Linked DNA regions of Homo sapiens. The protein of the gene in region 1 purifies or fractionates together with the protein of each later gene. This does not show direct contact. Each region holds a gene or a part of one and is shown on either strand. Other genes may lie near its edges.

Evidence for each region.
Region 2: the proteins of GNAI3 (region 1) and RAP1GAP purify together in Homo sapiens (affinity purification with mass spectrometry; 4 studies listed by BioGRID and IntAct, with this or other methods). This does not show direct contact.
Region 3: the proteins of GNAI3 (region 1) and GNG5 purify together in Homo sapiens (affinity purification with mass spectrometry; 4 studies listed by BioGRID and IntAct, with this or other methods). This does not show direct contact.

What each region holds. Positions count from the first base shown.
Region 1 is NC_000001.11:109,586,523-109,590,177, reverse strand, and holds part of GNAI3 (guanine nucleotide-binding protein G(i) subunit alpha-3), read right to left. Parts: intron 3,450-3,655; coding exon 3,296-3,449; intron 1-3,295. UniProt on the Homo sapiens protein: Heterotrimeric guanine nucleotide-binding proteins (G proteins) function as transducers downstream of G protein-coupled receptors (GPCRs) in numerous signaling cascades.
Region 2 is NC_000001.11:21,606,816-21,610,470, forward strand, and holds part of RAP1GAP (rap1 GTPase-activating protein 1), read right to left. Parts: intron 3,461-3,655; coding exon 3,305-3,460; intron 2,832-3,304; coding exon 2,760-2,831; intron 2,491-2,759; exon of another isoform or gene 2,296-2,490; intron 2,122-2,295; coding exon 2,035-2,121; intron 1,536-2,034; coding exon 1,398-1,535; intron 1-1,397. UniProt on the Homo sapiens protein: GTPase activator for the nuclear Ras-related regulatory protein RAP-1A (KREV-1), converting it to the putatively inactive GDP-bound state.
Region 3 is NC_000001.11:84,497,670-84,500,703, reverse strand, and holds the end of GNG5 (guanine nucleotide-binding protein G(I)/G(S)/G(O) subunit gamma-5), read left to right. Parts: intron 1-2,155; 3' UTR 2,156-2,379; downstream 2,380-3,034. UniProt on the Homo sapiens protein: Guanine nucleotide-binding proteins (G proteins) are involved as a modulator or transducer in various transmembrane signaling systems.

The DNA.
Region 1 (3,655 bases):
TACTCTGAACAGGTAACCACATTTCCAACTTCCTTGATAAAACAGAGGCCATGAGGATTAAACTACATCTCAACTTTTTGGCCTACCACCTCACTCAAAATGTTACATATCTGCACTTATTTGTACTTCTGGTCTTAGAGGTGTCTTACTTCTTGCTCAAAAATCAATTGCTCTACCTATACTCTTTTAAAAAAATTATTGAGGAAAATTAACATAACAGATATTTAACCATTTTAAAGTGTACAATTCTGTGGCACTTAGTGTATTCACAATGTTATGCAATCACCACCTCTCTCTAGTGACAAAACTTTTTCAACACCCTATTCCCATTAAGTAATCACTCCCTTTTCTTCCCATTCTCCCACTTCTCATAACCACTAATATTCTTTCTGTCTCTATGGACAGAAATTGCCCTATTTTGGATATATCATATAATAGAAGTATTGGCCTCTTTTACTTAGCACAGTGTTTTGAGTTTCATACAAGTTGTACCATCTATTATTATTCCTTTTCTTGGGTAAGTAATATTCATTGTATGTATATAACACAATTTGTTTATCCATTTATCCTACCTAGACTCTTAATTCCTTTTTTCCCACCTGCTTGCAAATCTTGCTCCTTCAATTACATCTGTTTTTTAATGTATCTCTTTTGCTTATAGGATCTTAGCCCTCAGCCTATAAACATTCTTAAATCTCTCCCTTCCCTTTAAACCCACGTTGCTCAAGAGTAGTCTACACTTGTCTTCTTTCTTCACTTTCCATTCTGTAACTCACTGTACTCAACTTTCCACTGACACTGCTCTCAACAGCAGGTCAACGACCTCCTAACTGTTAACTCCAAAGGCTCTTTTTCAGTATGTATCTTACTTATCTGCAGATAACACTGTTGACTGAAATATTTAATCAACTCACTTTTTAACCTCTCCTTTTGGTTATGATATCTTTCTTCCTCTCCTGCCAATAGAGGCTGCTATTCTCTCTCGTTCTACCTGTGGTCCTTTTTCTCCTCATTCTATAATATTATCTCCATAGGTCATTTCACCCATTTCCATGTTTTCACTACTGATGATCTCAAACCCCAACCTCTCCTCAACCTCGAATATAACTGTCCATGAGATATTATTTCAACGTTCTATGAATAATTAAAAATCAACATTCCTATACATGAATTCAGGTCACAGCACCAGCATCCAAGACAGAAACCTGGGAGTACCTCTGACTCTTCCCACTTCCTTACCCCTGCTTTACCCCTTCACTTTATTGATTGATTGATTGATTGATTGATTGATGGAGTCTCACTCTGTCACCAGGCTGGAGTGCAGTGGTGCGATCTCGGCTCACCGCAACCTCCGCCTCCCGGGTTCAAGCGATTCTCCTGCCTCAGCCTCCCGAGTAGCTGGGATTACAGGCGCACACCACCATGCCCAGCTAATTTTTCTATTTTTAGTAGAGACAGGGTTTCACCACATTGGTCAGGATGGTCTCGATCTCTTGACCTCATGATCCACCTGCCACGGCCTCCCAAAGTGCTGGGATTACAGGCATGAGCCACTGCACCCAGCCTCACTTTATTATAGAAAGCATTTACAGTGTCTCTGCTAATAAGAGTTCCCCTTCTCTGGAAATACCTGATTCTGATCTATAAGTTTCATAGTGATCCATCCCTGGCAGTTACATTTGTGCCCCTGACCTCAACTGATTGGCCTACAGATTTCTGCCTGACTTAACCACGGCCAGAATCTCTCTCCTTGGAATTTGAAACCAAGGCCAAGCAATCCCAGTCTAGTCTGATCTTTTTTTTTTTTTTGCTCAGTCGCCCAGGCTGGAGTGCAGTGGCGCGATCTCGGCTCACTGCAAGCTCTGCCTCCCGGGTTCATGCCATTCTCCTGCCTCAGCCTCCCGAGTAGCTGGGACTACAGGTGCCTGCCACCAAGCCCAACTAATTTTTTTTGTATTTTTAGTGGAGACGGGGTTTCACTGTGTTAGCCAGGATGGTCTCGATCTCCTAACCTCATGATTCACCCGCCTCGGCCTCCCAAAGTGCTGGGATTACAGGCGTGAGCCACCGCGCCCAGCCTAGTCTGATCTTTTTACCAGAGATACAGAAACTGTGACTAGGCTGTTATCACATAAACTGAATAGCAGAGAAAGCTGGTTAGGAAAGAAAGAATAATAAAAAAGATACACAGAGAGGAGAGAAAAAAGATGGGGATAAAGAGTGCTTCCAGGGTTCCTGACAATTATTTCCTAGTTCTAATTCCATTCTAAGACCTGTCCATTCTTGCCCTTGGGTTCTATGATATATCCCTTAATCCCCATCAAAAGTTTTTATTTCCATCCTGAGTTCTTACTAATTCAAATCCCCTACTATCTATCTTTATTATTTATTGCATAATCTTTCTCAAGCACAGTTTCTTCTATATCATGCACCCCATGATATGGATCATGGTAGGATATTAAACCTTTAACTGATCATCGTCTCAGCATGAGATATAAGGCCCTCCATGAGTTGATCTCTGACCATCTCTCCAACCACTTCTTCCCTGCCACTGTAAACTCTAGTAATACCAAATTCCTTCTGGGTTCCACAACTGGTCATACCATTTTCCTACCTCCATATTCTCATATATGCAATTCCTCTTTTCTAAAATGCTTTTATTCCCGTCTGCCTGATGATTTCTATTTCATCCTCTTAGTAGCTCTAGAAAAAGACTACAGTGACCCCATCAGAAGTAACCACTTCTATTCCACTTCTATTAATGCATATTTTACACTATAATAAAATTATTTATGTGCAATTAAACACTATAATAAAATTATTTATGTCTCTCTGCAACTACATGTCAGTCTCTTGGGCACAATGATTAAAATTTACCCTTGTATTTTCTTCAACATATACCAAATTTTACTTTATTTTTTGTGAGGCAGGGGGGTGTCACTATGTTGCCTAGACTGATCTCAAACTCTTGGGCTCAAATGATCCTCCTGCCTCAAGCTTCCAAGTAGCTAGAATTATAGCCACCATGCCCAGCTCCCAAATTTACTTTTTCTCCTTTTGTATTTTCCTCAAAAAATGAAGATAGAAATTTAAAATAAACACAGAAAACTCAATTGTGTCTGATATGGCACTCTTGACTTAGGGGCTTTTAATCACAGGCTTAATGCCAATGCCACTACCACTGAATACTCTCCCAATCAATCATTAAAAAAAAAAAGGCAGTTTTATGAATGCCACCAAAGTGTTGATCTAAGTAAGATGTGTACCTCCAATAAAATCTTTCATAACCCCTTACCTGTGTATTCTGGATAACAGATAGTTAACGGACTCCTCTTTATTTTTTCCTCAAAAAGGTCTTTCTTGTTAAGGAAGAGAATGATTGAAGTTTCTGTAAACCATTTGTTATTACAAATGCTGTCAAACAGTTTCATGCTTTCATGCATTCGGTTCTGAAAAAGAAATAAAGGATGATAGGTCAGTAGCAAATAGTAAAAGTGGATTAAGTTAATGAAAAAGACAAACCAACAAGTTTTGCAGCACTAAATGGCATTCACGGAAATAAGTCAAACACCAATAAGATAAAGTTGAGTGTCAGTCCTCATTTTTGTAATTTTTGGGGGAGAGGAGGTAGGAGGAAGGGCTGGCTAACATCCTT
Region 2 (3,655 bases), about 88 Mb from region 1:
GGCATGCCAGGACCCATGCCCTCAACTCTGGACTCCGCTGCTTCTGAGAAATTCTTTGACCTAATCTAGGTCCACCGTCCAGCACCTACCAGATGTGGGACCATCGGAGCCCTCCTCAAAGGAGACACCCCAGATCCATATTGACCCCACCTGTCCTGTCTCCAGTCCCCAAGCCTCTTTCTCAAAGACGATCTGTTCACCTCAGTTCCTGGGCAGGCCTGGGCAGCCGGGCTAATTCCCTTATTCCAACCCATAGCTCCAGCTGTGTGACCTGTCCTGGGTTGAGGGTGAGGTGTGACCAGCCGGCCGGGAAGCTGGAGGATGGGCAGTTATCCTCCTGTGGGTGGAGGAGACGGTGGCAAAAAGGCTACCACCTGGGGCCCTGTGGCCTGAGTGAGTCCAGACCCTGTCCAGGAACTACTCCACTCCCCACACTTCTCATTTCAGACAACATTTGCTGAGGCAGACAGGCAAGGTTTTGCATTTTGCTTTTAAACTTGTATTGCACTAACCTAACTCTTTTACAGATAACAATAACTGTATGAGGCAAGTTGCCATTACCCTACTCAACAGATAAAGAAACTGATGCTCACAGAATGCCCAAGCTGGTAAGTAACAGAGCTGAAATTTGAAGTGTCCGTGCTCTTAATGCTAAGCTAAACCAGGGACAGGCAGGGTAGGTCACACAGGCCAAGTCCCTCTCCAATGATCATGGTTCACACACCTCTTCTGAGAACTCTATTTCTTTCCCTCAGTCAAGACAGAGCCTCTTCCTCTCTTCTCTTCCTGCTGACCTAGCAGCCTTTGTACCAGCAGCCCTTGCTGTCTCCCAGAATCCTCCACCCTTCAGCAGAATTCCCAGGTGAATTCCCCACCTAGGCCCCACCTCCAACAGTTACTCCTCCCCAAGCCAGGGCCCCACCTTACATGCTGCTCCTTCAAACTCTACCCAAGGCAGACTATGTCCCCAAGTGTAAGCCCATTCTAAAGCCCAAGTCCACTTCGAGCCCCGCCCTCATCCCAGACTAGAGCCTCCTCTAGCCACACCCCCACGCCATGTCCATTAGCCCCGGCCCCTGACTCCACCCCCAGCCACGTCCCATCCCAGACTCTACCCGCAGGCGAGCGGCCTCTAGCCACACCTCCACACCATGTCAATCAGCCCCAGTCCGGGACTTCGCCCCAGCCACGCCCCCTCTCAGACTCCAATGCGAACGGCCTCTAGCTGCACTCCCCATGCTGTGTCAATCCCCCAGTCCGGGACTCCACCCCCTCAGCCACGCCCCTTCTGCCAGACTCCACCCCCACGCCGTGTCCATCAGTCTATCAGCCTCAGCCCGGGATTCCGCCCTAGCCACGTCCCTGCTCCCCGGCCAGTTAGACCTGGGGCCCTTCACCTTGAAAGACTCAAAGAAGCCGCCGCCCCCACTGCCATTCTCCATCTTGTCCTCGTCGCCGCCCAAGCCCATCATGGACTGGCTGTGGATGTGTAGTTCCTCATAGAGCGTCTCCAGGAGGGCGGCCCGCGTCCGCTCCTGTGGGCCAGGCCCGGGCCGTCAGGAGGGACCCCAAGGATCAGCCCTTCGGCCCACAGTTCAAATCCTGGCCACCTTCTGAGGCACGGGCCACCTTCTCTGAATGAGTGGGGAGTGGGGAGGGCGGAGGGCTCCTGCACCGCCTTCCCCCAGGCCACTCCACAGCTCAAGCATCCCCCAGGGACCCTCATATGAAGGGCCCCTCAAAGCCCCTTCAAGATCTGGCTTCATGTCCCCACCCCCCAGGTCCACCCCCCCACCTGACAGGTCCCAAGGTGTCCCTGTCAGCCTAACCGCCTCCCAGCATCTCCTGGGAACTCCTCAGTATCCCTCCGGCTTCCTCTCCCCGACCTCCTACTCGTCCATCAATCCATCCAGCCCCAGGTGTCCCCGCTAAGGCCAAGGTCTGAACATGGCTTTTCCCTTCCCAGGGACAGGGCTGAAGTTATAGGTTGGAAGGTGAGAAGAGGGTCACCCAGCCCTCACAGCCCATCCTCACCTCCAGTTTGGCAAACTTCTCTGCCTTGTAGCAGGCATATTCAGCATTGATCAGCTTTGTCAGCAAAAATTCCTGGAACTCAGGCCCCTGGAAACTCCCAGTGTGGAGGAGATAAGGAAGGGAAGTTGAGATGACACATAAACAAGGGTCGGAACCCCAACGAGGCAGAGGCTGCAGCTCCTGAACCATGCTCTGCTGGGGCCTGGGGTCACCCTCTTCACTCCCAAAAGGGTATCTCCCTGGGCTCAGCTCCCCAGGTACCTTCAAGGGGCCCCAGTGCCCTTCATGGCTGCCCACGCCTTCGGGAGAGCAAACTCCACAGATGTTAGGGTCTGGGTTGGGGTCTCAACCTACTGCTTCAGTCTAGGGTAGCAGAACACGCTACGTACAGAGCTGAAGCCCAGGCTTGAAGTGTGCCCCTCCCCAAACATTTTAGAAGAAAGAAAGAGACTGGAACTGTCAGAAAGAGAACAGAAATGAGGAGAGGCCAGTCTACTATGGAAAGTGTAAAACAATCGTGTAGTTTATCCTGTGACCTTGTGAAAAAAAAAAAAAAGGTGTTTTCAAGATGAATGGAAAAGCCAGGCCCCGGTTGCAGTTAGGGGAGCCCAGCTGCCCTGGCATACAATGAGACTTTGGGACCTCATAAGGCAGAATGTGTATGCACCCCCCAGGCCCCCACCCATTTGTCCTGCTCTGCCCATGACTGGGGGGGTGCCCCTCACCTTCCTGAACACAGCGGGGTCCGGGAGGGGGGGTCCAAAGAAGGGCACATCATCTCTTGCAGTGACAGAGACCTGGAAGGGAGGGCAGCTGTCTGTTCCTGTGGAGCCTGGGGTCTGCTCTGCCCCACCCAGCCAGAAACCCCTACTGTGCCTCCCTGGACTGCCCCTTGGTCGGGGAGACCCAGTGACTGTGGGCTGGATGAATCTTTCTTCCAGAGATTTCTGCCCTCTATCTTTTGCCCTGAATTTTAGTGGTGGAGATGGGTAGGGGCCTTAGGAATCATCGGGATGGTGAAGGCAGAGGAGGCTACGGGAGGTGGAGGACAGTGATACCAGGCCAGGAGGCAGAGGAGGGAAACTGTCCTCTCTGAGGGGGTGAGCTTTGGGGACGACAGGGGGCGTGGTGTGAACAGTGCACCATTGAAGCCTTCCATGGTCCCCCCATTATAGCTGGAAAAAGTGAGGCTCAGAGGGGCATCCCAGGGAGGGCAGAGCTGCAGCCAGGGCCCTTGCTGATGCCCCTGGGAGGCTCCAAGAGCGCCCACCTTGTAGAGGGGGCCATCAGGGCCCCCGCCCTCAGCCTGCACCACGACGTAGGCATGCAGGAAGTTGGACGCGATCATGTCGGGCACGAAAGGAGTGTTCTCATCCTGGAAGACCACAGCCACGATGTCGTTCCCGATGTGCCGCTTCCGCTGCAACTGAGCACAAAGCCACGGGCCTTCGTGGTCTGGCCAGAGGGGGCCCATGGGGGAGAGGGGTGCCCACGGGGGTTTAGGAGGGTTTGGGGTAGTCAGAGGGCACATCTAAGGATTTGCTTTCCCCAAAATAATGTAGCAAAAAAACTTGTCTTAAAACTATTTTAGTTGAAAAATGGCCTGTTTGGAACAACGTAC
Region 3 (3,034 bases), about 25 Mb from region 1:
GGGGGAAAAAAAGCCCTTTGAAAACAGGTGTCATGTGCACAAAAATGCACATGAAGAAGTAATTCACTTTCATATTTAACAGTTTATTATAATATCCTTTGTTTCTGGTACTATTCATTTAATTCTTCATGGTAGTTTTTGGAAGTTTCATATTTTTATGGTTTATTAATGATTGTTTTTTTAACCTCAGTTCTTGTATTCACTTTACAGTGGTTTATTTTCATTTGAATAAAATACTGGGCAGCTGTTAATAGTTTTACTTCATAGGAATCTACAGATAAGTGTTTAAATGAATTGCTCAAGTTTAAAAATATGGCTGGGGGTAAGAACCCAGAAGGTAAAATAATGTCTATTAATCCCAGCAGTATAAGAAAACAGCTTTGTGGATATTAAGATTTGCAGCAGTTTGGGCTAGGAGAATAATAATTGGGCATCAAAGCATTGCTTCTCAAGCTTGAATATATGCAAATCACTTTGTTAAAATGCAAATTCTAATTCAGAAGGTCTGAGGTGAGTCCCTAGAACTTGCATTTCTTACAACTGCCCACCTACACTGATGCTGACAGTACTGGACCTACACTGAGTGGCATGAATGTAAAGAATCTACATTGGAGTTATGTATATAAATACAGTTTTATCACTGGAGTGCAGTGGCGCAGTCTCGGCTCACTGCAACCTCTGCCTCCAAGGTTCAAGTGCTCCTGCCTCAGCTTCCTGAGTAGCTGGGATTACAGGTGCACACCACCACGCCCGGCTACTTTTTGTATTTTTGGTAGAGACAGCGTTTCTCGAACGCCTGACCTCAGGTGATCTGCCCACCTCAGCCTCCCAAAATGCTGAGATTACAGGCGTGAGCCACCGTGCCCGGCCCTGTATTTCCTTTTAAGAGGAAATTTTACTATTTTTTTTGAGATTCCAGCTTTTGAAATTTTTCCTCTTTTACACAAAACAAAATAGAATAACACAGGATTAAAAACTGTTAATCAGTAGAACATGTATGCACAAAAAAATGCAGATAAGACGACAGGCTTATTGACAGTATTCGCCGTTTTTCATTCTGCCTTTTTTAAATGAATTTATTTCATTAAATACTCTTTGTAAACAAGATATTTAATGGTTGTACTAAACTATGATGGAATTATACTTCACTGAATATTTAAGTTTCCAAAATTTGAGGTTACAGTGAGGTGAAGATTTTGGTGAACATCTATATATACTTAGTACCTCTATTAAGTTTCTAGAAGTAAAAAGGAGTGAACGTTTAACATTTTTACAACGTTGTACTTGATATCCCCTGCCAATATAATACTTTGGCCTTCCACTAGAAACATGAGAATGTTTTTTCCTTGAGTCCTAACAAACCTTAGTCTTTTCTGTCACTATTTTAGGTGAGATTAAACATTTTTCACAGCATTCTGTTTATGCCTTTTCAACATTTTTGTCACAGACTATCTCAGATTAACACTTTTGTACCTTTCCATATCAATAACTAATCCTAAAGTTAGTATGCTCATGTTTTAATTTTTTAGTACACTGTTTTTCAATTTAATGTTTTCATTTTTTAAATCTTTTAGTTTATACTCTATTAAACTGAAATATTATGGTTTGAAAACATAACTTATTTTTTAAGGCATAACTTATAATAGCTTTGTATTCCATCATATGTAGAAACCTTCGTTTATCCATTCTCCTACGGAGTTATATTTAGGCTGTTTCAGTTCTTTGCTGTTAAAATACTAATACAGTCAGTATCCTTGTACATGTTTCTCTATGTCTGGGTTTATCTAGGTAACTAGAAGTGTGGTTGCATCCTTTACTTCACTAGATACTGCCAAACTGCCCTGCTAAATATAGTCTTGCTCATTTTTCTAAGGATGTTTGGATTTTTGATTTAAGAGAGTTTTATTAACCTTTTTTATTATATACAGAATGTATTTTGGCAGTAATCTTAGCAAGTTAATCTGTAAGTCTGTTTATAAAACAGGAATGACTTATACATCAGAGTGGTTGTGAAAATTAAGGGAAAGATTTTACTGTTACTGGACCATAGGCATTTCCCATCCTGCTTCTTTTAAGTTATTCATGAAAAAAATTAAAAACTATGTTCTTTGATACTTTACCCTAACTCACCTTTTTTTTTTTTTCCCCATCTTAGGTTTCCCAAACCACTCCTTATGATCCAGTGAATATTCAAGAGAGCTACATTTGAAGCCTGTACAAAAGCTTATCCCTGTAACACATGTGCCATAATATACAAACTTCTACTTTCGTCAGTCCTTAACATCTACCTCTCTGAATTTTCATGAATTTCTATTTCACAAGGGTAATTGTTTTATATACACTGGCAGCAGCATACAATAAAACTTAGTATGAAACTTTTATTTTGCATTATTATTGGTATTAAATACATGGTATATTAATCTGTTCTGAACACCTGAAGGGGTTAAGTTTGTACAGTTTTTTCCACCTACTCTTCTCACATGACTTTATGCCATACATCTGGCAAGACTGCTAGGGAATTAAAGGTAAACTGTGAACCTTTATTCTTTTAAGGTCAGGAGGAGGCTGTTAAGTTCTACGGGTTTCCATCCATGAGTTACTTATAGGGTTAACTTTGTTTCAGTGCCTGAATGGAGTACTACAGCACCATGTAATGAGGTAAAAAAGAGCTCCCCACAACGTGGGCACAAAAAACCAAAAACCTCAAAATCAGGAAGCAAAGATTAGCTTCAGTAATTTGCAACTTTGCTTTAAACCCTGGTAGATCATTTTGCTTTAAATTTTTTACCCTTCTGAAGGCTTAAGAGAATGTTAAAACATCCAGAAACCTGGCCTCCATTTAAGCTATTAAAACTGTGCCAGACACTGGGAATCCAAGGTTAATCTGGTATAAAAATCAAGGGTTAGCCAATATTTACCAACCATTTTATTCCTCTCATGTGTTCTATGCAAATAGGAAAGTTAATCTGAATCTTGATTCCAACTTAATTATTCACAGTTACCCAAAAACAAGAGAACTAAGTTTAAGGAAACC